2 linked regions of the Homo sapiens genome follow. The protein of the gene in region 2 purifies or fractionates together with the protein of the main gene of each other region. This does not show direct contact. Each region holds a gene or a part of one and is shown on either strand. Other genes may lie near its edges.

Region 1 (17,176 bases), on a different chromosome or scaffold from region 2:
TGTCAATTAATAATTTATTAAGTTGACCAGACACAGTGGCTCATGCCTATAATTCCAGCACTTCAGGAGGCCAAAGTGGGAGGATTGTTTGCGCCCAGCAGTTCAGGACCAGCCTGGGTAACATAGCGAGACCCTGTCTCAGAAAACAAATTAATTAATTAAATTGGGAAAAAAAAGTCCATCTATTATTGCTTTAAAAAAAAAAAAAAGAAAGCAACAAAAGTACTTCTGTAGACTTTGGGTTCTTCTTGGAAAGACTTTTGGGGAGATAGCTATGTTCTGCCCAAATAAAGAAAAACTTTTAAAATTAAAATCTAATTACTGACTGGGTGCAGTGGCTCACGCCCGTAATCCCAGCACTTTGGGAGGCTGAGGGGGGCAGATCACTTGAGTTCGGGAGTTCGAGACCAGCCTGGCCAACATAGTGAAACCCCGTCTCTACTAAAAACACAAAAAATTAGCTGGGCGTGGTGGTGGGTGCCTGTAATCCCAGCTACTTGGGAGGCTGAGGTGGGAGAATCACTTGAACCCAGGAGGCGGAAGTTGCAATGAGCCAAGATCGTGCCATTGCACTCCAGCCTGGGAAACAAGAGTGAAACTCCGTCTAAAAAATAAAATAAAATAAAATAAAAAAAGTCCAAAAAAATTAGCCAGGTGTGGTGGCAGGCAGCAGTAATCCCAGCTACTAGGGAGGCTGAGGCAGGAGAATCACTTGAACCCGGGAGGTGGAGGTTGCAGTGAGCCGAGATCACACCACTGCACTGCGGCCTGGGCGACAGAGCAAAACTCCATAAGATCTAATTGCTAGAATCTCAGAATCAGGAAAAGCCACATCTAGAAGGCAGTTCAGAGAGGATACCTTCCGGGTTGGAGACAGACGTGAGGGAGAGCAAAAAGTAAAGAGCATCTGCACTGGGACTTTGAAGGTTGAATAGGAGCTCGCCAGGCTGCCAAGGGAGCAGGACATCTCAAGCAGAATTTACTCTTGGGGACTCTGCCAAAGTTCCTAAAGCAGGAGCTGTGATTAGCAAATCAGCTATGTTGTGAAGGATGATCCTTTAAGATTTTTACATCTGAAGAAGATACGTGACAACTTTTAGCTGGCAGTGGAGGGAGGTCTACCCTCCCTGCGAACTGTAAGACTTGAAAAGGCACACCCCATGGTGTGATCCAAGAACTTCGCCTTCCCCTGCAACTGTGCTTGACGGCACTGGTGACACACCATGCTCCCTTACACCAGAGGAACAAATGTTCGGGGACAGCAAAATAATTGCAACTGTCATCTCTAGGAATCTAGGGAGTGAGTGTGCTCCCTGACACTCCCTGACTGCAAATACTAAGAACTTTATTCTTTTTTTTTTTTTAGGCGAATTCTGGATCTATCACCCAGGCCAGAGTGCAGTGGCATGATCTTGGCTCACTGCAACCTCTGCCTCCCAGGCTGAAGCCATCCTCCTACCTCAGCCTCCAGAGTAGCTGGGACTACAGGCGTGTGCCACCATGCCCAGCTAATTTTTGGTTTTTTGGGTTTTTTTTTTTTCTGTAGAGACAGGATCTCACTTTGTTGCCCAGGCTGATCTTGAACTCCTGAGTAAGAGCTTTGTCCTAATAATTAATAATACCAATAATGCCTTCCACTATAAGCATCTTGTTTACAAGTATCCCATTTCACACATGAGAATCCAATGTCCAGAGAGGTGGAGTGACTTGTTTGAAGTCACACAGCTTGGAGGTATACATGGCATTCGACCCTGGGCTACCTGACTCTAAAGCTAGATTTGTCATAGGCGGAGGTGACCAGGTCGTTGATTCAATTGTTTAATGGGCTACCCTATTGGATTGGTGGAATCAGAGCCTGAAAAAGACACCCAAAAGAGGGTCAGCAGTTTTCAAACTTACAACATGTCAGAGCATCTGGGTCTTCAGGGAATCCCAGCCAGTACTGCTAGAGTAAGCAAAAGATTACTACATCTCTGGTTTTGTGCCAAATCCCAAACCATTCCATCCTAGAGTACGGGTGTACAGCATTCAAGGCCTCTGATTTTGGAACAACTTCAGGGAGCAAAACATATTTAAGAGAAGCCTGTACATTTCAGCTTCTCCCTCAGCCAGGAAATTACTCAAATGATTGAGTCTCCCAGGGCCCTCTGAGAGTATAGACCCAGAAAGATGCACATCCACAATGCCTGGTACACTGTAGGTGCTCAATTAATGCCTGTTGAGACAAACCAAACTTCTTTTTTCTTTCTTTTTATTTTTTATTTTTTTTGTGTGTGTAGAGACAAGGTCTCTCTCTGTCACCCAGGCTGGAGTCCAGTGGCACAATTGTAACTGACAGCAGCCTCGAACTCCTGGGATCAAGCAATCCTCCTGTTTTAGCCTCCCAAATAGCTGGGACTACAGGTGCACACCACGACATCTAGCTAATCTTTTTTATATTTTGTAGAGATAGGGTCTTTCTGTGTTGCCCAGGCTGGTCTTGAACTCCTGTCCTCAAGCAATCTTCCCACCTCTTCCTCCCAAAGTTCTGGGATTACAGGCATAAGCCACCATGCCTGGTTCAGATCAAATTCTTGATGTGGTGAATCTGCCATCCCAAGCAAAACTGGCCTGAATGGTTCCAGATCGGCCCCTGCCTTGAAGGAAGGTAAGAGGAGCCGTTTTTCCACCTCCAATGGAAAACATGTTCCGCAGTCTAAAGGCCTATCAGTCTGATCTGTCTGGCTAGCCTCTCACTTGAATTATCCCTGCAGAAATTGCTGAAGTCCACTGTTCAGCTCTCCTAAGTTCTGGTCCTTGCCATCTTCACAGGTGGAATCCTATCCTTCTTCGCTTCTCCCCCTGCTGTGCTGTGAATTTGCCTTCTTCAGCCATTCACTCATTCATCAGCAGGTATTTCCTGAGCACCTGCCAGGTGTGGTACACGCTGCTGGAGACATGGAGCAAACAGGCAGGAATGGCCCAGCCCTGCCCTCGTGGGTTTATGATCTCACTGGGAAGCAAATAAAATCACAAACCTGAGGGCACAACCAGGAGAATCGCCATGAACTCGTGATGGATCAGGTTTTGCACCAAAATGTAAGTCATTTTTGAGTGTGAAACCAAGAACCCTCTGGGCGACACAGTGCATTGGTTAGAGCACGAGATCTGGATTCAGGTTCTATTTCTGCTGTTCATTTCCTGTGTGACCTTGAACAAGTTTCCTCACCTCTCTGAGCTTGGGTTTTCTCATGTATACAATGATAAGGAAGTCTTCCTCATACAGTTTTGGAGTTTAAGTAAACTAATACAGATCAAGTCATTGATGAAAGAGTGTGCTACCATTTATGGTGCTCTCCATCATGTACCAAGCATTGCGCTAAGTGATTTACCTAAGATCAAGTTCAAGCCACTGTTATATCTCACTTGGGCCACTGCGAAAGTCTCTTGACCTGTCTCTCTGGCCTGGTCTTGTCCCTCCAGTTCATCATGCACAGAGAAGCCAAGGCGATCTTGTAAAAATTCCACAGACATCGTTAGTGTCCAGATTATAATGTCTCTAAGAACATTTCCCACTGAAAGGAACCAGGACTCCTTGGAGAAATGTCTGATTCTAGGGCTGGGGCAGAAATGTACATGATGAGCTGAGATATCTTCTTGCCTGAAAACAAGGACCCTCCAGGGGCATGGGCTACCAAAGAGAGGCTGCAAACGGATGATGACTGCAGTGGATTGAAACACATCAAAATATCTTTAAAAACCATAAGGTCGTAACACCCCTCAAAACAAAAACAACTCGTTGATACTTTTCATGGCTGCTAGGGCTACTCATTACTCTGAAAATAGACTTAGCCCCGCCCACACACAAAAAAAGGACATAATCAACCATGTACTCTGCCTTTCAGGGACTGTATTTCAGGGTAAGCAAATGCTTGAGGAAAGTCGTGTGGTAGAGAACAATGAGAGTTGGGCCGGGCACAGTGGCTCATGCCTGTAATGCCAGCTCTTTGGAAGGCCAAGGCGGGAGTATCGTTTGAGCTCAGGTTTGAGACCAGCCTGGGCAATGTAGTGAAACCTCATCTCTATCAAAAATACATAAAATTAGCCAGGCATGGTGGCGAGCGCCTGTGGTCCCAGCTACTCAAGAGGCTGAGGCAGGAGGATCGCTTGAACCTGACAAGTTGAGGTTGCAGTGAGCCAAGATTGTGCCACTGCACTCTAGCCTGGATGACAGAGAGAGACCCTGTCTCAAAACAAACAAACAAAACCAGAAACAACAACAACAACAACAAAAAACAACAAGAGCTAATAAGCACAGAAAGATTGACGGAAGTAGAAAATCACTATAGTAACGAAACAATAATCTGGGCTTTGCTCATCAGCAGGCAGTAAAGTCATTCGGCAAGAGGGTGATAGGGAACTTTACGACGGAGGTCAGACTGATACCCTAAACTCACTAATGAACAAAAATCACTAAAAGTGGGGTAACTGAACTTTATGTTCTTGACGTGATGCAAGAGAAAACAGAAAAACACCTTCAAAGTATTCCTGCTAAGGATCTGCACCTGAATTGATTCAAGCCTCTTGACCTAGTACTTATTTATAGGTATAGAAGAACATGTTAGATGACACTTGGAAGATGCAATCAGCCAAATCCAGAATATGGAAAATTCTACGGGACAAATGACCCAGTTTCAATAAGTAACTGGCATTTAATAAAGGGAGTTGCTGATTATTACAGATGAGGAGACTTAAGAGAAACCCTGTGGGTCCTGATTTGAATAAAACCATTCAAAGACATCTTTGAGCCACCTGGAGGACAGTCAGCATGAACTAGGTACTAGATTAAGGAATTATCATTCATTCTGTTAGATAGATATAATTATGGCAATGGTTTAAAAAAAAAACTTGTGTCTTTTAGAAATGTGTGCTAAAGTATTACGGGCAAAACAGTGTGACATCTAGCTGTGAGAATTGCTTGAAAATAGTCTGGGGGCCAGATGCAGTGGCTCACATCTATAATCCCAGCACTTTGGGAGGCCAAGGCAGGAGGATCGCTTGAGCCCAGGAGTTCAAGACCAGCCCGAGCAACATGGCAAACTCTGTTACCTAAAAAATAAAAATTAAAAAAAAAAAATTAGCCAGGCGTGGTGGTGTGTCCCTGTAGTCCCAGCTACTCTGGAGGCTGAGATGGGAGCCCAGGGTAGTAGAGGCTGCAAGTGAGCCGAGATTGTGCCACTGCACTCCAGCCTGGGCGACAGAGTGAGACCCTGTCTCTTTTCTTTTTTTTGAGACAGGGTCTCACTCTGTCACCCAGGCTGGAGTGTAGTGGCACAATCTTGGCTCAATGCAACCTCTGCCTCCCAGGTTCAAAAGATTCTCCTGCCTCAGCCTCCTGAGTAGTTGGGATTACAGGTGCATGCCACCAGGCCTGGCTAATTTTTGTATTTTTTGTAGAGATGGGCGTTTTTCCATGTTGGCCAGGCTGGTCTTAAACTCCTGGCCTCAAGTGATCTGCCCGCCTCGGCCTCCCAAAGTGCTGGAATTACAGATGTGAGCCACCACGCTCGGCCTAAGACCCTGTCTCTTAAAACAAACAAATAAACAAACAAACAAAAAAAACTCTGGAGCTCTAATTAATGACATGCATGTTGAAGTATTCAAGGATAAAGACACTGATATCTGCAATTTACAGGTGACAAATACAGAAAAATGGTAATGGCAGAATCTAATCAGGGGTATATGGGCACCCACTGTAAAATTCTTTCAACTTGTATGTTTAAAAATTTTTTTTTTTTTTTTGAGATGGAGTCTCGCTCTGTCGCCCAGGCTGGAGTGCAGTGGTGCGATCTCGGCTCACTGCAAGCTCCGCCTCCTGGGTTCATGCCATTCTCCTGCCTCAACCTCCTGAGTAGCTGGGACTACAGGCACCTGCCACCACGCCCGGCTAATTTTTTGTATTTTTAGTAGAGACGGGGTTTCACCATGTTAGCCAGGATGGTCTCGATCTCCTGACCTCGTGATCCGCCCACTTTGGCCCCCAAAGTGCTGGGATTACAGGCATGAGCCACTGCACCCAGCTTAAATTTTTTTATAATAAAATGTTGGGGGAATAATATAGGGAAAATGGGTATAGGAAGATGAAACTAGAAGGGCAGAAAGGCAATGGTTATTGAAGCTGGCTGATGAATGCATTGGGGGACCACTGTGCTATTTACTCTGCTTCTGAAGGTGTTAAAAAAAAACAGGTCAACTTTTTTTCCTATACCAAAAAGTTAAAAAGTTCATAAAATACAATGCAAGTACCCACCAGCTGACTGAAACCTGAATATTAATAGCTAATACTTATGAGTACTAATTTGTGCTAGGCTCTGTATTCAGCATCTTTTTTTTTTTTTTTTTTTTTTTTTGAGACAATGTCTGACTCTGGCGCCTAGGCTGGAGTGCAGTGGCACAATCATAGCTCATTGCAGCCTTGAATTCCTGGGCTCAAGCAATCCCCCTCCTCGGCCTCCCAAAGCACTGGGATTACAGGCATGTGCCACCACGCCCAGCGAAACTTTTTATATTTTATACAGACAGGGACTCAAGCAATCCTCCCGCCTTGGCCTCCCAAAGCACTGGGATTACAGGCATGAACCACCATACCTGGCCTATATGAAGCATTTTATAATCATTGTCTCATTCCACCTTGTGAGACCAGTAGCAGGGGAAGCCTCGTTTTATTGATGAGGAAGTTCTGGGTTCGAGAAGTTGAAGTGACGCAAAGTCACTCACCCGGGTAGTAAGCAGATAAACTGAATTTCACCTTTTCAATGATTGCTCACTGCACCCCTTTCCATGGTCTACATGGCCCTGGCAAACCGGCCTCTGCCACACTGACCCCTCTACGTTCCTCTGCACATGCTGCCTGGAATGTTCTGGAATGTTCTTCCCTTCCCTGCCCCCACTTCTGTCCTTTGCATGGTTATCTCTTGCTCTTTTTCTGATGGTTGGCTTCAGTGTCCCCACCTCAAACCCACCCTGATACTCAGTGGTCTTATTCTGTAGGACACGTGCCATTCATCACGTGCTGACCTGACTCTCTGCATTCACCAATGAGTTTATGCCTCTTCTCCACTGGAATAGAAGCTTCCTAAGGGCAAGGAGTGGCTCTGTCTTGCTCTGGGCTCTCCAGCACAGTGCCTAGCACACAGAAGCGTCAGGGTCAGTGAACACTTGCTGGAGGCCTGCACCCAGCTCAGGTGTGTCTGTGCCACCCCCACCCCTGCTGCCTACCTGGGGAATCCTCCTGCTCCACTGAGTCCTTGGGGCTGGGAGTGTCCAGGTGAGGCCCTGGGCACAGGCATCTGCACGGCTGTTGAACCCCTGCTGGCTGCTCCCTCATACTGCTGTATCAGGGGCCACCAGAGAGATGCCATGGAACACCATGCTCTTGCTCTATGCCCCACAGTTCCCTGATCTCTTCCTCCTGGCACTCATCATAGGTTGTAGTTATGTGGGTCATTATTACACATCTACCAGTGTCCCCCACTAGAAGGTAAGATCTGTGAGAGCAGGCAAGGCTTAAAACCCAGAGGGGCACAGATTTATCATCAATTTCTGACTTCATCTCCCCCGACCCCTTCCCCAGTCTATTTGCAACTCTGAAAATAGGGTTCTTTTGTAACTCCAGTATACACTAGGAGGCATATAGTAGTCCCTCAAGGAACCCATAAAAGCATGTTGAATAAGAATGAAAGCTGGCAGGTGTGGTCTCTCATGCCTGTAATCCCAGCACTTTGGGAGGCCTAGGCGGGCAGATCACTTGAGGTCAGGAGTTCGAGACCAGCCTGGCCAACATGGTGAAACCCTGTTTCTACTAAAAATACAAAAATTAGCCGAGTGTGGTGATATGCACCTGTGGTCCCAGCTACTTGGGAGGCTGAGGCAGGAGAATCGCTTGAACCTGGGAGGTGGAGGTTGCAGTTAGCTGAGATCACGCCACTGCACCCCAGCCTGGGCAACAGAGCAAGACTATGTCTCAAAAAAATAAAAAAGAAAGCTGATGTTTGTTGAGCACCTCCTACACACTGAGTCTTATGCTGTGCACTTTGTGTGTGTTATCTCTTTAAATGTTCACAAAAATGATAAGATGAGGCACAGAGAGAAAGTCTGTTGTTCAGAGTCACATCAGTGAGTGGCAGAGCTGGGCCCCGGGCTGGGCCCTCCAGCTCCAGGTGTGCACGTGTGTGGCACACGTGTGTGGGTGTGTTTTCTTCATCCCTTCCCCTACGCCCACCATTGCCTCACTCCAAGGCTGAGCTAGTGCAACAGCCTGTTAGCAGATCTCACTGAATCAATTCTACTTTCTCCCTGTTCAAATTCATCCAGAACCCTGGGAGACAGTGCTCTATTTACACACACACACATACACACACACATGCATGCATACACACATGCACACACACACCCCTTGCCCCCTGCTCAAGAGCTCGAGCCTGTGAACCTCATCCACTCCATGGTCCTGCCTCCCAGGATCCTGCAAGGAGATGAGGAAGGCATGGAATGAAACGGTTCCATGTTTTGCAAGAGGTGGCTATGAATACCAATCCTGAAAGATGGTCCCCACCCTTGCCAAAAAATAACATTTCTAGGGCCAAATCCCAATGTCACATCTTGGAGAGTCCCACTGCATTTAGCATAGTAAAGGCTCTGAGAAGTCCTGCTGTAAACCACAGGCAGCCTGGTGTTTCCCAAACTGATTGGCCCTGGAGGCCTGTTTCCACCTTGCATGGGCAGCTCTCCATATCAGAAGAGCTCCAAAAGCCTCACTTTGTGGGGAGTATGGAAATAAAAGACCGAAGCCTTCCTTATAACACAGCAGAGAAAGCCTTCTAGGTCAGTTGGGAGGGGCATGTCCAACAACTGATTATTCTATAATAGCTAGTATTGAAGTCTGCAGCTGATTTGCTTCTAAATAGAAAGGAGAGTGTGTTCAAGTTGTCCTCTGATATCACCTTCACTCATTATTTAATTTAAAAATATGGAGCTTAATTAGTTCAACAGGAGTGGTGGAAAATCCTTTAATCCTTTTTTTTTTTCTTCTGAGATGGAGTCTCGCTCTGTCGCCCAGGCTAGAGTGCAGTGGCGCGATCTCAGCTTGCTGCAACGTCTGGTTCCCAGTTTCAAGCGATTCTCCTGCCTCAGCCTCCCAGGTAGCTGGGATTACAGGCGCACCACCATAACTGGCTAATTTTTGTATTTTTAGTAGAGACAGGGTTTTGCCATGTTGGTCAGGCTGGCCTTGAACTCCTGACCTCAAGTGATCTGCCTGCCTCAGCCTCCCAAAGTGCTGGGATTATAGGCGTGAGCCACCCAGCCCTGTCTCAAAATCATTTTTTTTTTTTTTTTGAGACAGAGTCTTGCTCTGTTGCCCAGGCTGGAGTGCGGTGGCACCATCTCGGTTCACGGCAAGCTCCACCTCCTGTGTTCAAGTGATTCTCCTACCTCAGCCTCCCAAGTCGCTGGGTTTACAGGCACTAGCCACCACACCCAGCTAATTTTTGTATTTTTAGTAGAGAAAGGGTTTCACCATGTTGGCCAGGTTGGTCTCAAACTCCTGACCTCAAGTGATCTAGCTCCTCAGCCTCCCAAAGTGCTGGGATTACAGGCGTGAGCCACTGTGTCTGGCCTGAAGAGACCTTTTCTATGTGTAGTTGTTTTCTGGGGCCCCAGCAAGGGTCAGAGTGGCTAAGGTATGAGCCCAGAGAGCAGGACTTCTGGAGTACAGCAGACTTGGGTGGAGGCTTTGCCATTTGTTATCTGATTGGCCTGAGCCCATCATGGAAATTCTCTGAACCTTGGTTTCCTGGCCTGTGGAATGGAATAAATAAAATCTCCTTCCTAGGATTGTCCTCAAAATTATGTGAGATCCCATAATTATTATGGCATACCTGGGGTATGCCAACTACCCAATAATCAATACCTTGGTTTCTCTGCTGTGCCCAGCCTGGATTCTCTGATACAAGGATCCCTGGATTCCTGGAATAAATGAACACGGTCTATCTTCCTAGAAAATCACCTTACTCTACGGTCATAAATTTACTATTATCACTGCAAACAGAGAGATCTATTAGGATAGGATGTGAAATGTGCATACATTTTTCCGATCAAATGCAATATTTCTAACTCTGTTTCCTGGTTTCCCTGGGTACAGGTGAACTCTACTTTGAAGTAACAAGTCACTGAATCACAAATTCAGAGGAAGCATGAGAACAAGGTATTCCAGGCCGGGTGCAGTGGCTCATGCCCGTAATCCCAGCACTTTGGGAGGCCAAGGTGAGCAGATCACTTGAGGTCAGGAGTTCGAGACCAGCCTGGCCAACATGGCAAAACCCCATCTCTACTAAAAATACAAAAATTAGCTGGGCGTGGTAGTGCTTGCCTGCAATCCCAGCTACTCGGGAGACTGAGACTGAGGAATTGCTTGAACCTGGGAGGCAGGGGTTGCAGTGAGCTGAGATTGTGCCATCGCACTCCAGCCTGGGTGACAGGACGAGACTCTGTCTCAAAAAAAAAAAAAAAAAAAGAACAAGGTCAAAGTTTCTACTGGGATAAGACTTCAAGGAAACCTCCATTTCAAAAGATTAAAATGTTTATTTCCCCATGAAGACTGGGTATCTCATGTAATGTAATACTCAAATTTCTGTCTCAGACCTAAAGGTGTTGAAAGTATGAGCGAGTTTACACAACACCTGAGCAGGAGCAAATAAAACTCTTAAGAGCTTCTGAAAGAAAGTTACAGATTAGAGATATTTTCATCTCTAAATCACATGAATTAGGATTGGCTGGGTCTTTCCACTTAAAACTTGGAGAAGTCATAAAAAGAAATCTTGTAAAGAACTCCATGTCACTATTAGCAGAAACATGCAATTTATAAAATGATATCTTTGGCCAGGCGCGGTGGCTCATGCCTGTAATCCCAGCACTCTGGGAGGCCGAGGCGGGCGGATCACTTGAGGTCAGGAGATCGAGACCATCCTGGCTAACACAGTGAAACCCTGTCTCTACTAAAAATACAAAAAAAATTAGCCGGGCGTGGTAGTGGGTGCCTGTAGTCCCAGCTACTTGGGAGGCTGAGGCAGGAGAATGGCGTGAACCCAGGAGGCGGAGCTTGCAGTGAGCACTCCATCTCAAATAATAATGATAATAATAATATCTTCACCTTTCAGTTTTTAAATTGCAAGTCCCATGTCCCGGGAATTCCCCGGTCCTGGGCAAAGTGGGATGGTTGGTCACCCAACCTATATGGATGCCCATTGATATTAAAAAATAAAAGTAATCACAATAGACATGAGGGAGAGAGTTGTGTACAGTGTGAGTGTACAGAATAAAAGGTCTGGGGGGTTTATACCAAAATGTGCACAGTGGCTACCTGGAGGAGGAGGGTTAGACAGGAATAACAGCAAGGAGACTTTTGCACGGTGCTGAGTGACTTTTTAACTTGCATATTATTTTGGAATGCATTTTTTCAACATTGAAAGAAAGTCATGTCTTCCTAGAAATATAGGATATAGGACCACTACAAACGCTTTACTCTTAGTCTCCTTTTTTTCTTTTTCTTTTCTTTTTTTTTTTTTTTGAGACAGAGTCTTGCTCTGTCAGTCAGGCTGGAATGCAGTGGCGCAATTTTAGCTCACTGCAACCCCCACCTCCTGGGTTCAAGCGATTCTCCTGCCTCAGCCTCCCAAGTAGCTGGGATTACAGGTGCCCATCACCACATCTGGCTAATTTTTATGTGTTTAGTACAGATGGGGTTTCGCCATGTTGGCCAGGCTGGTCTCGAACTCCTGACCTCAAGTGATCCACCTGCCTCTGCCTCCCAAGGTGCTGGGTGGCATGAGCCACCGTGCCCAGCCTTAGTCTGCTTTAAAAAAAAAAAAAAAAAAAAAAAGAACAACCATTTGAGGAAACAGAAACAGAATACTATTCCTTAAGACAGTAGCTTTGGAGGCAAAAAACAGAATTGTTTATAAAACGTTGTGGAACTTATATGGGAGCATGTCCAGGGATCCACACCACCATTTATAGAAGCAAAGAAAGGCCCTTCTCTTTCATCTGCGTTACATTTCGAGCTCTTCTGATTAGCTTCCTTCAAACATGACGGGAGTCGTTTTTCCCCGGGGACCCCAAGTGCATGCCTTCAGACAGGGTCTGCTCTCACTATACATTGGGTTCGAATTTACCTGGACGTTGGCAGAATGGTCCGGACCCCGGGGAGGGGCGAGCTGACTTACCACTTTATTCCTGCCGCTTTTCTCTTGCCATGTCCTCCCCACCGTGCATTCAGGGTTACATTTTCCAGGTTCCTTGTTTGCTGAGGGCCTGAATCTAAGCCTGCTAGCTGCTTACTCTGGGGACTGCAAATGTCACTTTTAGATTAATCAGCCCCTGCTGTTTAAAAATATCCCTGGAGCACTTAACCTTCAAAGCAGCAACAACCCGGGGCAAAGATGAGAAAGATCCCACGTCAAACCACTTGTGCAGCCCTGGCTACTCCTGGGAGAGTTCTGCTATCTGCCTTTTAATCCCATAACTCGCTTTATTTCATAATTCTTAGCTGTTGAAGCCATGAGGCATCTAAAGTCCATGTTGTCGTAAGCAGTAGGCAGAAAGTCATCTGGGCCCTCCTGTGACATGCTGAAAATTAACTGCCTACAGGTGTTGGTCATTTGAGAAACAAGCCCCCATTGAAAACCGTGAATGGGAAGGTGATCGCTATCAGGTCACCTGGCTTCTCTCCCCTGAAAAGATTTGGCGAAACCCTCTCAAATCACGCCACTTAATGGAATGTTTCCAATTTCTTGTGACTTGGGGATAAAAGAAAAAAACAGCTCCATTGCCACATTCTCATTCAGGGTTGACTGGCTCTTGCTAGGGTTGAGCACAGAAGAGGAAATTCAGCACACGCTGCAGTTACATAGTGTTCTGCAACGTGGGGAGGGCTGGCATGTGGGACAAAGGTCGCCTCCAAGGCCCAGCTGGAGAAGCCCAGCCAACTAGGCAGCAGGAAAGTGGAGACCACATAGGAGCACATTGTGCTCAGGCAACAGGGAAGGTGGAACCCACTTCCTGCCAACAATGATGGCCTTACTAAACAGCAAGTGGAGAAACTGGCGAGAGCGCTGAGCACGGGATCTGTGCAAAATGGTTTAAATGGAAATTGCTGCTGGGGCTGGTGCAGCCTGTTCACAGCTACTTTGTTTCTGGGCTTATTTTGCAATAAGGAACAGTCATTGAATATTGGACTTCTTGGGATTTTCTCCACTGGACTTGGAAGCATGTGCTCTGGAAACCTCAGCATTATCAGCTGTAACCCCACAGCACCAGGTACATGTTACAGGAACCGGGGTGAAGGAATGCAGGTCAAATGCCTGCACAATGCCCGGCCCGAGTCATATGTTCTCTAGCCACAGTAGCCCTTGTGATGGCTCTTAGTCTATTTATTAAGACAATAAAAGAGGTGACTCTCAAACAAACCTATGTTTCCAGGGAGAGCCATCTGTGATTCAAGGACATTTTTATAAAATTCCATTGAAAAAAATTCTTAGGCTTCTAACTTCATGAAAAAAAAATTCTTTCCCAGTGATTCCAAATAATCATGATCTAGGCAGGGTGTTGACAGTGGCAGGACTATTAGGCTTTGAAATCAAGCTGATGTGGGTTTGAATCCTCCCTCCATTAGCCATGACTTTGAGCAAATGGCTGAGCTTCAGTGTCCTCATCAACTACTTCACCATATGGGTGAGAAAATGAAATGATTTATATTGAGTTTCTGGCACAGGGGCTTGCTCATGACAAGCACTTAATATCTTTCTAATGAAATTCATTACTTGCAAAAAGACTAGACATACCCACACATACAGGTGAAGAACTCTGCAGTGATTCAGTTCTCCCTAGACACTATCTCTTTAAGACACAGGTATTTTCCAGAATATAATTGGAAGGCTTGAAACCAAAGTTATTCATAAACTCTTTCCATCAAACACAAGAACGGTAATAGAAATATATTTCTTCAAACAGCTGTTAGTTTCAGAAAGTCACAGGTATCAAGTTACATTTTTTGTTTTGTTTTGTTTTGTTTTAGAAATAGGATCTTGCTCTGTTGCCCAGGCTGGATGGAGTGCAGTGGCATGATCATAGCTCACTGCAGCCTCGAACTCCTGGGCTCAAATGATCCTCCTGCCTCAGCTTCCCAAGTAGCTAGAACTACAGGCACACACCACCCCTGGCTAATTAAAAAAAAAAAAATTTTTTTTTTTTAAAGACAAGGTCTCATTATGTTGCCCAAGTTGGTCTTGAACTCCTGGCCTAAAGCGATCTTCTTGCCTTGCCTCCTAAAGCACTGGGATTACAGGTATGAGCCACTGTACCTGGCCCAAAAAAAATTATTAAGTGACCACATGGTCTAACAAAACAAGGCACCTGGAAAGAAATCACCAGTCCTGCTGCAAACCGGACCCTCTGTGAGAATTCACATGCCTTCCCCCACCAATTAAATCAGAATTTCCAGGGATGGGGTCTGGCTTTGCATGTTTTAGCTTCTCTAGGCTGGAGGAGCACTAGCTTCTTGTTGGAAGGCTCCCTACCTTCCTCTCCCACACCCTCACCCCAAACATCATTAAGAGAGACAAAAGAACATGCTATATACACAACTAACAAGCAGAGAACATAAATTATTGATCTCCTGGTCTGCTCCGCTCACCAATATTTATATTTCCAAGCATATTTCAAAAACTTAAAAACTGGTTCCCTAGCCTGGGCAACTTAGCAAGACCCCATTTCTATTAAAAACTTAGCCAGGTATGGTGGTGCATACCAGTGGTCCCAGCTGCTCAGGAGGCTGAGGCAGGAGGATCACCTGAACCCAGGAAGTTGAGGCTGCAGTGAGCCATGACTGAGTCACTGTACTCCATCTTAAGAAACAGAGTGAGACTCTATCGCAAAAAAAAGAAAAAAAAATTGGTTCCCATTGACTTAAACTACAAAGGAACTTCCTGTTGTCAGACCCAAATTACAGTGTCAGAAGGACTCTAAACAAGGAGGCCATCTCCAGCAGAGGAATGTTCTAGCTTTCCTCAGCTTGAGTCAGCACAAGTCAGCATGTGAGGTCTTTTCAAAGTAACCCAGAGCACCTCCCTGCAACCTGTTTTTCCTTGCAAATCTTGAAGGTTTGGCAAGGATGAAAAGCCAACACCACACGCATACGCCAAAAAGTTTGCTTCTCCACCAAACATACTTGCGAAGACTTTTATATGAGAAGCAAACTGAAGCAGAAAGTGAATTTGAACAGAGATGTATTATCTAATAATGCAAGCATACTAGCAACATGCTAAAGTCTATCTTTAAAAAATGCAAACAATTTATAGTCCCTGACCTTCCCCTGCTGGATGTAGATCAAAAGCAGGCAGTGACTTTCACACAATTAATTATTTTATAACTGGACGTTTCCAGTACAACATTTGCTAATAACTGACTTCCTTGTGTTACCAATTCCAAAAGCTGTCAGAGATCTCCCTAACTCACCTGAAAAGGGAGGAAACAGGAATCATTAGGCCAGGTTCTCAGAAGCCTCCCAAACCTTGCCACGTGGAACCATCCAGCTCCACATCCAGCATGTGGGTCCTGCCTTTGCAGAGGCAGGCTCCTCAGTGTTGAATGCTCTTGTTCCTCTTTGTGGCCTGGAAAGTTCAATATCCACTCAGACATTCTCTCCACTGGGAAATGTCTTCTTTCCTGGGCTGACCCAGCCGTTGCTGCCTTTTTGTTCCCACCGCACTGACAGTGAGTACACACAGGGGTCTGCAGACTGTGGTTCCAGATGCCTGTTTTCCAATAGCTCCCAAGCTAGGAGTGGTTTTTACATTTGTTAAATGCTTAGGAAAAAAAAAGATTTCGTGACACATGAAAATCATATTAAAATCTAATTTCAGTGTCCATAAATAATAAAGTTTTATTGGAACACAGCCTCGCCCGTTCCTGTACGTTTTGCCCACGGCTGCTTTCTCTGCAGTGAGTTGTTGAGCAGTTCCCACGGAGAACGGGTAACTGCAAACCCTCAAATATTTACCACCTGACCCTTCACAGAAAGTTTGCCAACCGCTGACCTAAAAGGCTAAGACTGCCTTTTATGCATCTTTGCATACTGAGTGCAGGAATATAGCAGACTTGACACATGAAAAAAGCAACTACCACATAGCTAAGAGTTCATCAAAATGAGTTGCCTGGTTGGTTTTTTTTTTTTTTTTTTTTTGAGACGGAGTTTTGCTCTTATGCTCTTGTTGCCCAGTCTGGAGTGCAATGGTGCGATCGCCCGGGTTCAAGTGATTCTCCTGCCTCAGCCTCCCAAGTAGCTGGGATTACAGGCATGTGCCACCACGCCTGGCTAATTTTGTATTTTTAGTGGAGACAGGGTTTCTCCATGCTGGTCAGGCTGGTCTTGAACTCCCGACCTCAGGTGATCCACCCACCTCGGCCACCCAAAGTGCTGGGATTACAGGCGTGAGCCCCCACACCTGGCTGAGTTGCCTAGTTTCTAAAGAATCAGTAATTAAATTTTTGGAGGGTCATGGACCCAGAAGCTGCTCTGTGTACTGTTTAAAGTGTCACCACATGACTAAAGTTCAATATATACACATATATATTGAATATATATACATATATACATACATATATATTGAATATACATACATATATATTGAACTTATATACATATATATTCAATATACGTATATTGAACTTTTGTATATATTATATAGAAATGTATGTATATATATTTAAAATATACATTTTATATTTTAAAATATAAAATAATTGTGTTTTGAATTATTCCTGGAAACTTGGAGCTCACTGCTCCCCCTACCGGCAGTGCTGCACCGGGAGAGAGAGAAGTGTGAAAAGCTAACTGGTGTAAGCACAATTATCCCTTCACTTCTTCCTTGGCTAAGGGAGTCCACTGTTGTTTAGAGGAAGATCCCAAAGTTACCAGAGGGCAAATCGACCATGCATCCTCCTCCCGTGAAAGCCAGCTTGCTGACCACAAAATGTAGAATGATAAACCCTTCCCTACATAGATAAGGAAAGGAAGCAGTATTTTCAAGCAAACTCTGGTCTCCCTCCCTGCCCTTTTAAGAAATGCATTTGCTAGTCTCGAGGT
Region 2 (16,928 bases):
GAAGGACCTCATCGACAGTATGTTAGAGCAGAGGACATTGCTGTAATTTTGGGAGCCCAGCCGAATCACCTCAAATGTATCCTAAATTCTCTCTATTAATTATTCGTCGAAGCAAATTGCTCACCAAGTATTGCCTATTCGCCCTGTCCTTCCCATTGCCTTGATTACTGCCCTATTTCAGGCTCAGATTCTCATTTGCTGGGCTACAAAACCAGCCTCATATTTGGGTTTCCTTCCTCAATTATGTCTTCTTTTGCAAGTGTCTTTCATAGTTAATCTAGAATTACCCTTTTTAAAACACAAATAAATCATCTCCCTTCCATGAAGAATCATGACATAATGGGGAGTCTTTGGAAAGATACAAACCTAGGTTCAAATCTTAGATCTGCCATTCACTAGTTATATGTTGTTAGATACTTTTTTCCACTTGTTTCTGCATTTGTGGATCAATAAAATGAGCCTAACAATACTCACCTCAAAGAAGTTTAAAGTGGATTAAACAGATAACACATGTATCCAGCACAGTGCCTGCCCCATAGTAGACATTCAGAAACAATTAAGACTTTATTCTTTTGCTTAAAACGTCAGTGGTTACCTATCCTGTAAAAGATAAAAATTCACTCTTTTCGGAGTAGACTATATTTTCTCTCTGAATCTTCTCTAAACTACCTTTTTAGCTTTCCCTCTTATACTTTCTCTTTCCCTATATATTCCAGCCAAACTAAATAAATCACTATTGTTGAACACAGTATTTTTTTTCCTGATTTCCAGACTTTTTAAGACTATTCCCTGAATCTGGAATGTTCTCACCTTCTTTCTCCCCTGGTTGGGTTATATTTGTTCTTCAAGATCCACCGTAACATCCCTTCCCTGTAAAAAAAAGAGGACGAAAAAAAGGACAAAAGAAACCAGCTACTATTATGACAAGTAAAAGTAAAAATGCAAGTTAAACATAGAACAAAAGCAAATCCAGTACTTTTCCTGGATGAACAAAGCCCATGTCTATTATAATGTATTATTTGAATAGCTTTTTTACTAAAAAAAATCTTCCAGGAAGTCTTAGAGTTTTTATTTGAGAAGTGAGGAAGCTGGTTTTTCTTTCATTCGAGTGACATAGAGCGTGTTCATTTGAAATGCTCCCTAAAATATTTGAAGTGGTCATACTCAGCTAGGTGGCTCCTAGCTGACATCTGACCCTGCTTATGAGTTCGACAGGAGAGGGAGGGAAGAGGATGTAAACATTAAATTCGAAAACATAATAAACATGACCAACAAAGTTTTCTAAATTAAAACAATTTACTTACAATACACTGTTTCTTCCCATGTAAATAAATCAGCTCCCTAATCCTGCAAGCTTGACTCCTTTCTCAATCATCAAGTGTACCATATGGATCTTCCCTAAATGGGGGCAATATTCCAAATTAAGGCATGGTTCCCATAGGTTTCTAAATTTGGTTCTTTTAGACTTAGATTGACATCCCTGGCCTAATCTATCAGTTATGAAGTTATGGAAGTTTTATAGTAAGTCTATATAGCCAACTCTAAATTACAGCAAAATCCTTTTTGGATTAAAATTTCAATTTGAGAAGGTAAAATATTAAAAGTATGACAGTTCAGTCATTCAGATTATCAAATGAGATACGTTAAGATGCTTCACCAATGCTTTTTCCTTTTCTCTTCTCTTCTTCTCCCTCCCTTCCTCCTGTGCTCCCCCCTCTCTCCCTCCCTCTTCCCATCTCCCTTTTCCTTTCCCTTTCTCCCTCTCTCTTTCTGTCTTTTCTTTTTGTCCTATTTTCATATTCAAAGTAAAGGAGCCACTGAGGAGTATATACCAAGTCAAATATTTACTGCAGAGAAACATCCATAGAAGGTTTTGTATTTTGTCTCTATTTTTTGTAGGAAGGTTTCATTTAGTTTAGGCATGTAGTAAGATATAAAATTTTGCTATTGGGATGATACAGCTTTAGCTTCAAGATACTGTTCTCAACAAAAAGGATAGAGTTATTTCTGTAGCTGACTGTTGATTTTTGTTTTATAGATGTTTTCATCCTAGTCTTGCAAAAATTCTATAGCTATATAAAATAATTTATATTGATGGCATTTTAAACCACCTTTTACTATATTTTTTCCCTCACAAATTTTAGTTTTTTAATTTTCAACAATAGATTGTCAAAGATTCCTACTAGTATAATACAGCCCATGTTTGCACACAGAAACAAAGAAACTTGAACTTCATTCCATGTAAACTAAATGGGTAAATATGTAATTTTTATGAGACGCCATTACCCACATTTTCACCTTCATAGATTCATAGCTTTCTGGGATAGGCATATTTTAAAGTACTGCAAAATAAGCTTGAGAAAAGTAAATTTTAAAAAACATTTTTGGCTTTTAGCCATGCTATTGTTTACTGCCATTGCTTTAGTATTACAAAAGAACATAGCCTGTGAACTGAAAATCAGATTGTCCAGTTGGATCAAATTTTTTAAATAGTAGATATCACTAGCTCTAATTATATTTTGTGAATGATCTAATGAAACAGTCACATCATAACAAAAAGTGACAATAGGCCAGGCGTAGAGGCTAATGCCTGTAATCCCAGCATGTTGGGAGGCAGGTGGATCACTTGAGGTCAGGAGTTTGAGACCAGCCTGACCAACATGGTGAAACCCCATCTCTACTAAAAATACAAAAATTAGCCAGGCATGGTAGTGGGCACCTGTAGCCCCAGCTACTTGGGAGGCTGAGACAGGAGAATCACTTGAACCCGGAAGGTGGAGGTTGCAGTGAGCTGAGATCACACCCTTACACTCCAGCCTGGGTGACAGAGTGAGACTCCATCTCCAAAAAAAAAAAAGTGACAATAAAAATTTATCTTTTCAAGTATTTTACATTATTTTGAATCTATGCAACCAGGATGACTTTTTTTTTTTTTGGTCAAAATGAAGAGGCTTCTTGTTTTGATCTTCTGTCTAAAATCGAATGGTTTTTGGCATTTTGTCAAGAGAAGAACCAGAGCATTTATTGTATGACTGGTGAGTGTGTTAGACAGTTGCACTGCTTGCTCCTCACAGTCTTGAAGGCCTGGACTATAATTAATGTGACAGTCCTTGGAAACTGCTTGGGAAGCTGAGGCAGGGGTATCACTTGAGCCTGGGAGGTTGAGGCTGCAGTGAGCCATGATCACGCCATTGTACTCCAGCCTAGGCAAACTTGTCTCAAAAACCAACACAAAACAAACAAAACCTTGAAGAATTGCTTTAACTTTGAAAACCGGAATGGGTTAGGAAAGGGCATTTTAGAGAGTAGAGCATAACCAAAGGCTGGAGATAGTGAAGGCTTGGAATTATATAAGATAAGGTGAATAATCCAGTGTGACTTCAAGGTAGGAAGGATACCCAGAGTTGAGTAATGAGAGTTATATCATGAAGGTTACACTGGGAGGGTTTTGAAGCCCAGAGGGAGACATGTATACTTCATTTTATATGTCATGGGAAATGATGTGGCCAAATCTGTGTTTCAGAAGATGATGTTTGTAGCTGTTCAGAGGATAAATTAAAGAAAAGACACTGGGAAGACAAAGAACATGTCATGTGAATTGGCAAACTATGAAAGCCTGTACTAGGATGGGGTAATAAAAAAGAGCAAGCGATGTTCTAACCACAGACACTGATTGTAGAAGAATTATTGGCAGAATTTGGTGATGGAATGAGTTGAGAGAGAGATGACTGATGATGATGATGCTTATTATCATTATTATTATTATCACTGGACTCCCAAGTTTCTCTTACTTAAAGCAGGAATAAAGCATAAAGTAGAACCAATTTAAACTCTGTCCCATGACAACTCAAGAATAATTCTGTTTGTACCTGATCTGCATATTGCCCCTTACCATTGCTGTGTGCCTGATGACTGGACCAGTCCATAGTGAGATTATCCATACATTAACCGTATTTCATTGTGATATGTGAGTGACTGATTATTGAATAAAATATAAAGCACAGGTGCGCGGGGAGATAAGAGCTGTACAGGCTATTCAGGAATATGCATCATCTTGATGATTTTTCTTCTCTCTGTAGGTGAGCCCTACTTTGGAGTCTTTTTTCCTGCTTAGGTGACACTTAGGACTGTTGCAGACTTTAGTGATTCAGGAAATGCCTTCTGATCAGTGGGTGGCAGTGTTACATAGAGGAAGGAGAATAGGTTGTAGTAGGAAGACTTCTGGGCAATCCCTGCTAGTATGACTGTCCCTTAATTCCCAGGTTCTGAACTCTGAATTATAAAATCATCTTCAGACTCACTTGGGGCTTTCTTTTAAATATAGATTCCCATATGCTACCCTTTGGAGATTTGGTTCAGTCATTCTGGTATGGGACCCCAAAACAGGGATATGTGTGTGTTTTTTTAACATTCTAGATAATTTTGAGAGTTACCTAAAATTAAGAACTAGTGACTTAATCTTTCTGAGTCTCAGCTTTCATAGGATTGCTATGAATGTTAAATGAGAAAATATGTCTAGATTTTATGAACTTTAACTCACAATAAAATATATGCTGTTAATTAGATTACCTCTTGAAATAAATTTTCTATCCCTTTTTAAAAGACTTCAATTTCTTATTGAACATGAGATCATATTATATTTGTTTGATTTTGTGCCTTGTGATAGCAGAGAGAAAAATTGTGAATTCTGTCCAAACTAATACATAAAATATAGTATTCACTAGATAATAGTTTTAGATGTTAAAAGAGATGGTAGAAAGAAGAATCTTAAATGAATTATTTATTTATTTTTAAAATCTGAGGAATAAATGCAAGTTTTTAAAAGTAGCAAGGACATGTAAACAGAAATTGCTTCTATATATTTTAATACAAAATCCACATTTATTATTAGCACCAATGATTTAACTTACAAATATATTCTGACTCCCTGGTTTTAAGAGCAATAGCTTAAGTTAAATACACAGTTCATCTCTTCCAAAGTCAAAAACAATAAAATAAAATAACACCGACAAGCAATAGTAGCAATGGCAATTTGAAAACATATACTTTAAGTTAATGGGACTTCAATAGCTCAGTACAAACTATATAATAATATGTAGCATAGATGTCAGTTGACTTTGATTCTTACAGTCTGTTGTAATCAGTTTCATAGACTTTAGTCACAGTTTCTGTGTAACTAGAGTTACCTGGCCTTCCCAGTTCTGAGGGGCTTTCTAATACAGAGCTCCACTGTTTTTTATGACAGTACCACAGTATCTTCCTCCTTCTGCGGTCTCTCTGTTTTTGTCTTGCTTATGCTTCTTCAACTCTGCGCCTGGATAACTTTCATGTTAATCCATTCTGAGTCATTTGTTCTTCTTGGCCTGTCAAGACACCCAAAAAAGGCCAAGCTGTTCACCCAGGGAGCCATACTGGCACATTCCTTCTGCGCTTGATACTATCTGTTAATTCCCTTCAGCCAGGGACCAGTCACTTTAGGCTATTAGCCTGCAGGTCATTTAGAAGATTTAAGTAAATATCTGATTTGAGGAACCTGGGATAAGAGTCCTTTTCCATAAGAGTATATATGACTTTTTGTGCTTCATCAAAACACGTGGGGGTTGGTGCTTTAATCTTCTTGGCTGTAGATTCTCGAGTGCGGAAGTCAATATTGATCTAAAAAAGAAAACCTTGTTAGCTAATATATACTTTTCTTTACTGCAAATTTTATGATGTTACTGTTTTTTGAAACACCTCAGAAAGTAATTTTAAGGCCTCATTTAAATCAATTCAAATATCTCTTAAATGCCTTTGTAAAATCAGCTCTATACTAGGTGTGAAGGAGATAAGAAATATTACAAAAATGTCTTTGTTCCAAATTTCCTCATAGTATAGTTAGGAGAGGCAAAAGAAGCAGACATGAAAAATTTAAGTATCCACATAAGATGATCCATGTATCATAAAGAGTGATGTAGGCATTTAAGATTTACAGGAGAAGAAGGCTCTTTTTGTTGATATTTTCTGCTTGGACCAAGAATATTTATCTGGTAATACTGTTAATTGGAAATACTTTTGCTGCTGCAATTGTATACATTATGCTAATCTGCATTTTCTTATCCAAAACAAGAGCACTCATTAAGGACTCCCTGACATGCAGTTCTGGTCAGTAACAATACCCTTAACCCTTCCCTCACCCTCATCATGGCAGCTGGTTTTGTAAAATCAGTCTCTTTATTCTACTGTGCTGAAACCCTCACCAATATAGAAAATTAGATTCTCATTGCACTGAACTATATTTATATGCCTAAGTATGTAGAAGTAAAATTATATACCCCAAAAGGATTTTATCTTGTTGTATATATTAAATGTTATTTCTGCATATAGGGTCTTTTATGGAGAAACTGATGATGATAAGCTTAATACTCACTTGTTTAGCAGCATCTGAATGCACAAATGCTTTATATATCTCTTCTGCTTTACAGGGCAAAAGATCAGACTCTGTTTTCTTATAGTCTTCACAAGCCAGCCAGAACTCAATATTCTCCTCACTGAATTCAGACTTTAGGAAACTTCCAAAGACATTTTGACCAGCTAAAAAGAAACGAGGGGTGGGTGGGGAGATAATTAAATTAAATGAACCAACAAATGAATAATTTGAAGAAGAAATTTGTAAGAAAAATACAATTGCTTCCTATTCATACAAAGGTAAGAGACAGCTACTGCTGAAATAGCTGTGTTATAGATTGTAGAGATGAGAAGTCATTTGAAATTTCTTCATTCATAGAAGAGGAATCTGGGGCCAGACAAACTCATTCATAGTCACATTGCTACTTGATGGTGGCTACCAAACTGTTTTGCTTCTATCCGCGGTTTGAATTGAAATTCTGCTCCACTGAATATAAAACCATCTTTTATATATGCCAAATCTTAGCCAGAGTAGAGAGTATTTTAGGAAAGCAAACACTGACAAAAGGCATTAACATCACAATAATTAGTAAATATAATTTCCCCATCTAATTTATATTAGCCAGAAAATGTTAGGCCTATATATGATCTGTAGGCCTGATGTACTAATTATGTTTGCTAGCATTCACTGAGACTTTTATATGGCACCATTTATGGTCCATATCTATACCATTTATTTGTTTAGCTGAATTATAAACAAAGTCAGCTGAGCTAGAGTGAACAATGTGATTCCCAAGTAAAGCTCCTTAGGGTGTCTGTGGGGAGAAAAGAATAATCTCACTCTTTAGAGATAGAGACCACACTGCTCATCTACACCTCTGAAAAAGGTCCTAATCTCAGTAGAATTGTAATGCCCAAGACAAGGGGATGGCAAGCTGATTTCATTCTTTACCTTCTCTCATCAGAAAATCTCCACAAGACTATATGTGCTTAAAAATCCTTCTATCATATTTATGTCATAAAAACTATCATGTTATAATAATGCAATTATTTATGTTATGTATCTCAACCACCTTCAAGGCAGTAAGAGACTGTCTTTGATTTTGAATCCTTGGTACCTCTACAATGTCCTCTACATAAGGGTGAGATGAATGATGAATGTATGAAAGATAATTTAATTAATTGAATGAATGAATCATACTTGTTACATCCAAGTGTAGAAAAATACATTCTTTAGGCAGATTTCAAAATGGCAATGTACATATTAAAATATTTGGCTTACTTTTAAAATTTTTACATATCAGAATCCCAGCACAATGTTTAATTTTATCTCCATAATGATCTATGAAAATACCTAATTGTCTTGGCAAATTTGTCTAAAAGGAGTTGGCAGAATTGAGTGCTAAGTCAGCATTATTAAGAGGCATACTATGCTGAAGTTATCAGTAACTACAGACAAACTAGAATACAACCTTTTGCATACTATCCTACCCAGAATACTATATTTAGTGAAGCCATTCAATTTTTTAGAGTATTTAGCTGAACCCAGAAACATTCAATAGTTATACTTACTTTGGTTGGCAAGAAGTTTTTCCAGAGATTGAGACCATTGCATTACTTCAGCAGCAGAAAGTCTGCAGGGGACAAAATGTACATACATTAGTCAATTTTTAAAATGTAAGCACAAATGAAATAAGAATGGCTGTTACACTTTGATAACTTCACAAACTGAAACTGTAGTTCTAATAAATATGTTAAAATTTATTCACAAAATGCAAAACTTCCCTTAGAGTTACTATAGTTATGAAAAAAAAAACCTGCCAATAAAATTTGAAAAAATCCAAATAGATAAAGTCCAATATGTGTGTGTACACATTTGTATTCAATTTACATTGGTACTGATAGTCTAATTTTATTTGGCATGTTACTTAAAAGAAATGAAGTCTACTGTGCGCAGTATTTATCCCTTGCTGGGATATAGAGATAATGCATAGGCTTCTCTTGTAAATGATAATGATAGTTTAGTGTATTAGTGTACTTACACATCCTTGGACTTGGAAGATTTCATTCCAGATTCCAGATGTGGGATCATAGATCTCAGGTATGCTTTCATATCCATTCCACTACAAAAGACATAAAAGTGAATATTCATATTTCTTCAGAATTCATTTTATTTGTAAAAAGACATAGAATAAATTTCTCTAAGGAATAAGGCAATACTAAAAATGGTTGATACAACATTTTGCTATAGAACCCATTTTTATGAGCCTGTGTAGAGAAAAACTCCTACCCAATTTAATGCCATATCAAGATTTATTTTTTAATGCAGCTGAATATTACTTATTACTCACAACAGGCAATTAACTCCTCTGATCTGGCTAAACTAAATGCTCACACTCTCTTCCATTCATTCTCAATCCTTCTGCCATTAAAGATAACTTGTTAAAATTCACAAAGTGAGACTCTGAACAAACTTACAAAGTCTTTGGCCTCCTTTTTTGCATTTTGTCGTCTAGAAGTGAATGAGTGGTTCCTTTCAATTCCTTTGGGTTAGCAGAGAAGAACATTCCTGGCATTTTGTCTAACTTTGGAGTGGAGATGGCTGCTGCGCGCATGGTGCTCTTAGCAAATATGCGCTAGTCAACGTCTCTGCTGCTTTATATAGTAGAATGCAGACAGGCACTTGCTGTTTAAAGGAGTCTGTTTATCAAGTGATGTTACCACAGACACTGGAAGTTCCCCTTTTCTTGGTGTGCTGTGACGTGTATCTTGAAAAAAAAAAAGCATACAGTGGTGTCTTGTGGTTGAAACTTAACCAAACGAGAACAGGTCACTTGATTAGAAAGAAAGAAAATTAAACATACAGAGGTACACACACATATGTCACATGTCTAAAGCATTAACAGCATCAGTCTTTGGTTCTGGAGGATGTTTGTTTATTTTAAAAAAGTTGCATGTTTCAATAAACTGTTTCATTTGGCGTATTAATTTATCATATAGAAACTCACATAGAAATTCATCACATAGAGTTGTATCTTACTCCATGCTTTGGATAGTCCTTGACTATAAAATTCATCTGATCAAAATATTTTAAGAGTTCTCTTCTTTTCTGCAGGAAGCAGGGCAAAGTAAACAAATAATTTTTGTTTAATTATTTTGCACATATCTGATAGGAGGGAAAGTTATAAGAGGCTATCTTCACATTTTCCCACTCCAATTCTCATCCCTTATTTCCATGGCAGGAAATTTCCATGTTAATATTTTCCAAGGTGTGTGCTAGACATCGACTGGCAATACATAGGATGATTTTAAGGGGTGCATGGTTTTTAATATTATTTTCATATTTATTAAGAATATAACTAGTATATCAAACTTTGATTTTTGCATATTTTGCATATTAGGAAAAAATAAAGTTTAATTAAAACCAATCATAAATAAATAAATGTTTAATTGTATACAAATATGACATAATTTGTAAACATACTGATACCAAGGTCACAGTATCAGAGGAAAAACTGCTCAAGGTAAAATAAAAGTCTATTTGGATAGACCAATAATGTGTACTTCTTAGGTAATGATCTTTCACATTTTGGCAGTATCTCTGGAGAGATAACAGTTTTAGCTTTAATTGAGATTAAAGTTTAAAACACAAACAAAACTCAAGGAACTAGATGACTAATCATTTATAAGGATAGAGAAGTTAGTAAAATATAAGCTTTCAAAAGTTTATATAACAAGTGTGGCTTATTTATAGAGTACCCAGTTTAACTTAAGCCTCCTTGGATTTTACCCCTGGAAGGACAATACTTTCCTTTAAAAGGACAAAAAAGCATTTACTTAGTGAAGCTTCTGATGGTATTAGGTAAAGCTGATAAAAGGGAGGGGAGTATTAATTTTTCTGTTCTGGTTCTATCGTCAGGATAAAGAATATTTGAAGAAAACACATTTACAATATTATAAAATTCACTTATACACAGTCATTAATTTCATTATAATGAGCTCATTATATTGTATGTAACAAGCATCATTTTATGTTGGGAAGATAACATAAGGCATTAAGAAAGATAACTGGTGAGATGAGCTGGCCACTTTGGAAGTGACCCTAATGAGACCGATGAAACTCAAAGACAGATGACATAAAGGCATTTGGTTGTATACTTCCTGTGGTTCAGTCCATACTTAATTTCCTGTTAAAATCTTCAACATTGCTCATGTTTGTTGATCTAGTATCCTCTCACTCCTCTAAATAATTGTGAGTAAGTTATGTTAGAGTAAAATGATTTAAAAATTATTTTTAACAGCCCACTAGTATTATCATCCAAATATACTGACAGTTTCCAAAGAACAAGAGCAGCAGCAAAAATTATGGGGCCAAGTAAGTTTGGGAAATGTTGGACTCCTAACTTGTTAAAGAACTAAACCCTCTTTAGATAGGGAAAATAGTTTTTTGAAATAATGTGTTTTTTTGACACTATGTTAAGAAACTCTGGTCTGAGATCAAAATAAGTTTTTGCCTGTAGTGTATTTAGGAACTGCTCTGATGCTCCCAACATTTTGCTACCCCTATCCCAATATACATTTTGAAGCGCAAGCATTTACAACTGCATGCTTCCACACTTGAATAGAAATATAAACTCTTGAAAGAGGGAGTCCTTTCAAAATTCCTGTATCACAATTGGCTGATGAGGTCACCTTAGTCATGCAATAAAGCAGCTGCTCTCTCAGAGGCTGTTTGCTCATCCACCCAAAGTCTGTGTGTTCCAGAACAAGGCAAATTTGGTCAAGTTGTATCAGCAAGTGTGACAAGTGCATGGCAGGGCATTGAAAGTTCCCTATTAATTTTAAAGAGAGTGCCACTATCTGGCCCCTCTTTGTAAACTTCACTAAGAAAAGATAAACTGTCAAATTGTAACTTTATTGAATCAATGACTTTGGTTGAAATAGTAGAGGATTTCAAAAACGTCAGTAGAAGAAACAGTGGGTCTCACGATCTGGGTTTCAGTTTTCCCTCTTTGAAACTGTGCTAAAACATCTAGGTTTGAGTTTCTAGGAAAAGGAATACTTCATGTAGTCTTAGTGTTATCTTTTTTTTTAAAGAAAAATTAATGGACTTCATTTTTAGGGAAGTTTTAGGTTTACAGTAAAATTGAGTGGAAAGTACAGAGTTCCCACAACTCCCCACCTTTCACCTTGCCTCCAGCTCCACCTCCAGCACCATACCTCGTTAGTGTGAAATATTTGTTATAATTGATGAACCTACAGTGACACAGCATTATCATCTAAAATCTATAGTTTACATTAGAGTTCACTCTTGGTGCTGTACATTCCATGAGTTTGACAAATGTATCATGATATGTATCCATCATTATAGTACCATACAGAATACTTTTCCTTCCCTAAAAATCCCAGTGTTATATTTTAAAATACCTAGGAGATTGGTTCAGTAAGACATTTCAGATTATGGCTGTTGATATTGATAGGAAAAATAAGGAAAATTTTAATCTTTGCTGAACTGATTTGAATGGAAACATTTGGTTTCAATTACTCCAATTACTGGAATACTAATAGGGAGTGCTTTCCTTAAACCTGATGTTGTTTGAACTTTTAAAATGTTGCTAAAATCTTATTGTGGATATTAGAATTGTGAGACAAGGGGTAATGATGAGTATAATATTCTATTTTAAAATAAAAATGTATCCATACTGGAAAAGTCAGTGACGTGGAAAGATAGCTTGATCCATTGAAACAAAATGTTTCGATTCAACAAAGTTTAATTGCATCCCTACAGTGTATCACACATAAAGCACTGCAGATACAAAGATGAATGAATCTCTGTCTTAAGGGGTTCACTGTGTAGTGGGGCTGACAGATGTTTGTGAGAGGTGCCATCAGAGAGGAATGTACAGAGAAAAGAACACAGAGGAGTAATTACCTCTGGAAGTATGAGAAAGGAAGCAAAGTACTGCTGTCTTTACTGTAAAATCAACATGTATCTATTCTTTGCTTGTTTCTGCATTTGTGTTTAGCATCCCTTGGAAAGTTCAAATGGCTGCAATGGAGAAACTGGTCTCTAGTAAGAGACCAGTTTTATGTTGAAGGATCATGGAAAAATGGATCCCATATGTACTCACAAAGCTTTGCAAACTTTCAAAAGTACTCTGAATGACTTAGTTGAATTAGCATAACCACTCAGAGCTTCCTTGGTCTTCAAGGTTTATAGATAAGGCTACTAAAAGTGTTTCAGCTAAATTTCATAGAGTTTATTTGAAAATTTGAAAAAGCTGCAACAAAAGTGAGTTTAGAAGGATTTTTCTCTGTATGTGTATAGAGGGTTGGTGAAAACTTTATATCGTGTGAATGAAAAGTTTAAACATTTTAGACTTGCTTATGATTTTGTTGTGAAGAAATATGATGGGTTTTAATAAGAGCAAATATATGCAACACACTAAACTTCAATGATCTCAGTAAGTGCAACTGAGCAAGATAAGAATCTAGTTTCTTTTTCTCACTCTGCTCCAATCTTTCAGTCAACACTGACTGCCTCCTTTCTATAATTTGAGAATTTACAAGAAAATAGTATGTGGGACCTTCAGTGAACTGAGCTTATGTGATTCAATAAGCCTCATTCACCCTAAATCTAATTTTACCAGTTAAGTTCTTGATAATAGGCCCGTGTTCCAAGACATTCTTGAAAGCACTGAGGAAATCTTTTGATAATATTATCTCTGGTATACTTATTCCATATTGGATTTATTTTCATTTAATGTCACACTATCACTTATAATCCTTTCAACAAGAGAGAGTAGTTATGTCTGACTCTAGACTGTGCTTTGCAAATAAAATTTCGTAAGTATGGAAGGAGGTGCCTTATTCCCAAACCCAAATAAATGGAGAGCTATGCTAAATGAACACTGACACATTATTTGGAGTTGGGATAGAATGTTCTGTTACATAACAATGACATAAATGCAAAAATGATGGAGGTGCTCAAATATCTGCATGTAGAGGATTTGGAAAGGAAGGTGATATAGTTTGGATTTGTGTTCTCTCTAAATTTCATGTTGAATTGTAATTCCCAATGTTTGAGATGGGGCCTGGTGGGAGGTGATTGGATCATGGGGGAGAATCCCTCATAGCTTGGTGCTGTCTTCACAATGGTGAGTAAGTTCTCTCAAGACCTGATTGTTTAAGAGAGTGTGGCCCCTGTCCCCTACAACTATTTCTCTTGCTCCTGCCATGTGAGACACCTGTTCCCCCTTCATCTTCTGCCATGATTGGAAGCTTCCTGAGACCTCCCCAGAAGCAGATGCCAGCTCTATGCTTCTTGTGCAAGCTACAGAACCGTGAGCCAATGAAACCACTTTTCTTTAAATAAATTACTTAGTCTTAGGTACTTCTTTATAGCAATACAAGAATGGCCTAGTACAGAAAATTGGTACTGAGGAGGGGGGAACTGTTATAAAGTTACTTGAAATGTGGAAGCAGCTTTGGAACTGGGTAACAAGCAGAGGTTGGAAGAGTTTGGAGGGCTCAGAAGAAGACGAGAAGATGATGGAAAATTTAGAATTTATTAGAGACTGGTTAAATGGTCATGATCAAAATGCTGATAGTGATATGGACAATGAAGTCCAGGCTGAGGAGGTCTCAGATGGCAATGAGGATCTTACCGGAAACTGGAGCAAAGGTCATGCATGTTATGCCTTAGCAAAGAGCCTGGCTGTACTATGCCCCTGCCCTAGGGACCTGTGGTAGTTTGAATTTCAGAGTGATGATTTAGAGTATCTGGCAGAAGAAATTTCTAAGCAGCAAAGTGTTCAAGATGGGGCCTGGCTGCTTCTGACAACCTACACTTATATGTAAAAGCAAAGAAATGACTTCAAGTTGGAAGTTCTATTTAAAAGGGAAGCAGAGAAAAAAAGTTTGGAAAATTTCCAGCCTAGCCATGTGATAGGGAATGAAAAAGCTTTTGTGGGAGAGGAATTCAAGCAAGCTGTGGAGCAACCATTTACTAGAGATACTTGGAAAAGGGAGCCAAGTGCTAATATCCCAGACAATGGGGGAAAGGCCTCAAAGGCATTTCGAGGCCTTCAGGGCAATCCCTCCCATCACAGGCCTAGAGGCCTAGGAGGATGGTTTTGTGGGCTTGGCCAAGGGCTCCACTGCTAGGTGCAGCCTCAGGACACTGCTGTCTGCATCCTGGCAGCTCTGGCTCCAGACTCAGCTCAAAGGGTCTTAGATACAGCTAGGGCTGCTGCCTCAGAAGATACAAGCTATAAAACTTGGCAGCTTCCATGTGTGGTTAACCTTGTAGGCACAGAGAGTGCAAGAGTGAATGAGGCTTGGCAGCCTCCACCTAGATTTCAGAGGGTGTGCAAGAAAGCCTGGGTAGCCAGGCAGAAGCCTGCTTCAGGGGCAGAGTCCTCACAGAGAACCTCTACTAGGGCAATGTGGAGAGAAAATGTGGCTTTGGAGCCCCCACACAGAGTCCCCACTGGGGCACTGACGGGTGGAGCTGTGAGGAGGGACCCACCATCCTCCAGATCCCAGAATGGTAGAGCCACTGGCAGCTTGAACCCTGTGCCTGGAAAAACCACAGGCTCTCAGTTCCAACCTGTGAGAGCAGCTACTTGGGCTGCACCCTAAACATCCACAGGGCATTGGGAGTCTACCCCTTGCTCCATTGTGCCTTCCATGTGGGACATGGAGTCAAAGGATATAATTTTGGAGCTTTAAGATTTAAAGACTGCCCTGCTGGGTTCTGGACTTTCATGGAGCATGTAGCCCCCTTTTTCGGCTGATTTTTCCCTTTTGGAGTGAGAATGTTTACCTAATGCTTGTACCCCCATTGTGTCTTAGAAGTAAGTAACTTGTTTTTTATTTTATAGGCTCATAAGGGGAAGGGACTTGCCTTGTCTCGGATGAGACTTTGGACTTTGAATTTCTGAGTTAATGCTGAAATGTCTTAAGACTTTGGGGGACTGTTGGGAAGGGACACTTGTATTTTGCAGTGTGAGAAGAAACTGAGGCTTGAGGGCAAGGGGCAGAATTGATATAGTTTGGATATGTGTCCCCTCTAAATCTCTTGTTGTATTGTAATCTCCAGTGTTGGAGGTGGGACCTGGTAGGAGGTGATTGGCTCATGGGGGAGGATCTTCATGATGGTGAGTGAGTTCTCTCAAGATCTGGTTGTTTAAAAGAGTGTGGCACCTCCCTCCCCACAACCCTCTCTCTCTTGCTCCTGCTGGCACCATGTGAGACACTTGCTCCCCTGTCACCTCCTGCCATGATTGGAAGCTTCCTGAGACCTATCCAGAAGCAGATGCCAGTGCTATGCTTCCTGTATAGCCTGCAGAACCATGAGCCAATTAAATTTCTTTTTTAAAAAAATAAATTACTTAGTACCAGGTATTTCTTTATAGCAATGCAAGAATGGCCTAATACAGAGGTATGTTTTAAATATTAGAGAGCAACTTCAATAAATGACTGTTAACTTTCCAAGTTTCTAATAACACTATTCCAGTGATTTCATTTGCTTTTGTTCTTACTAAACATCGAGGTGGCTAACAATAGAGACTTATTTGCTTTGCTTTTCCTCATTAATTATATAATTTTCTTAGAAAAATCTCTCAAGATTTCCTGACATGTTCTGTTCTTTCCAAAACCATGCCAGTTATTGCTGACAAACACATTAACTCCACTTTCTTCATGTCCTTTCTAATGCTTTGCTTTTATGTCTATTTACATATATCTATATATATAAAGTGTATACATTTATATAATATGTGTATATAATATATATACCTATATATTTTATTATTATTATTTTACTAAATATTGGTGTCAGACTTACCGGACATTTGTTTGTAGTAATAATCTTCCTACTTGAGAAAGTAGCTCTAAGTCAACAGATAGTGTCCATGCTTAGCAGTATACTACTATTATTGTGAGTACAAGTGGTCTGTGGTGTTCCACTGTTTTCTGTGTCTGTTCTGTTTTTTTTTTTTTTATTAAGCCTTGTCTGCCATCTTATTTGTATTCTATTTTAAAAAATAAATGAAAGGCTTTGATTCTGTTGAATCCCAGTGACATGTTCATCTTGCTGCTTTGAAATCTCACATTTCAAAAGACTGTGAGCCAATTCTCACAGCTATACCTTTTCCTGCTGTGTGAGTTTGATCAAATCAGCTAACTTCTTTTCAGTTTTCTTTGTGTAGAAGTCAAAGGCGATCATCAGCAACTTGCAGCTATGGTAGTGGCATGGGAAGATCTCCTTTTGAAATTCTATACCAATCAAAACTAGCCCCAGAGAAATTAAGATTTAGACAGAATTTGCCATAGCTAGGATGTTTTCCATTTTTCTTATGATGTTAGAGTTCTTTGCCTAGACTTCTTCCTAAAATTTAGTAAATTTGGCAATCCACCTGTTCCAAATGCAGGGCTACTCTTACCACTGCAACTCTGCATTCACTGGGCCAGTCTTCCAGATTGCTTCTTTCCCTATCAATATTTACTTGTCTTGGATTTCCTTTTTTATTTAGTTAGTT

What was found.
Region 1: the proteins of RGS1 (region 2) and ACACB purify together in Homo sapiens (affinity purification with mass spectrometry; 2 studies listed by BioGRID and IntAct, with this or other methods). This does not show direct contact.

What each region holds. Positions count from the first base shown.
Region 1 is NC_000012.12:109,111,786-109,128,961, reverse strand, and holds the start of ACACB (acetyl-CoA carboxylase 2), read right to left. Parts: upstream 12,376-17,176; 5' UTR 12,258-12,375; intron 10,309-12,257; exon of another isoform or gene 10,178-10,308; intron 4,817-10,177; exon of another isoform or gene 1,367-4,816; intron 1-1,366. UniProt on the Homo sapiens protein: Mitochondrial enzyme that catalyzes the carboxylation of acetyl-CoA to malonyl-CoA and plays a central role in fatty acid metabolism.
Region 2 is NC_000001.11:192,567,864-192,584,791, reverse strand, and holds RGS1 (regulator of G-protein signaling 1), read right to left. Parts: upstream 9,020-16,928; 5' UTR 9,000-9,019; coding exon 8,863-8,999; intron 8,508-8,862; coding exon 8,427-8,507; intron 8,019-8,426; coding exon 7,957-8,018; intron 6,571-7,956; coding exon 6,407-6,570; intron 5,656-6,406; coding exon 5,470-5,655; 3' UTR 4,768-5,469; downstream 1-4,767. UniProt on the Homo sapiens protein: Regulates G protein-coupled receptor signaling cascades, including signaling downstream of the N-formylpeptide chemoattractant receptors and leukotriene receptors. Inhibits B cell chemotaxis toward CXCL12.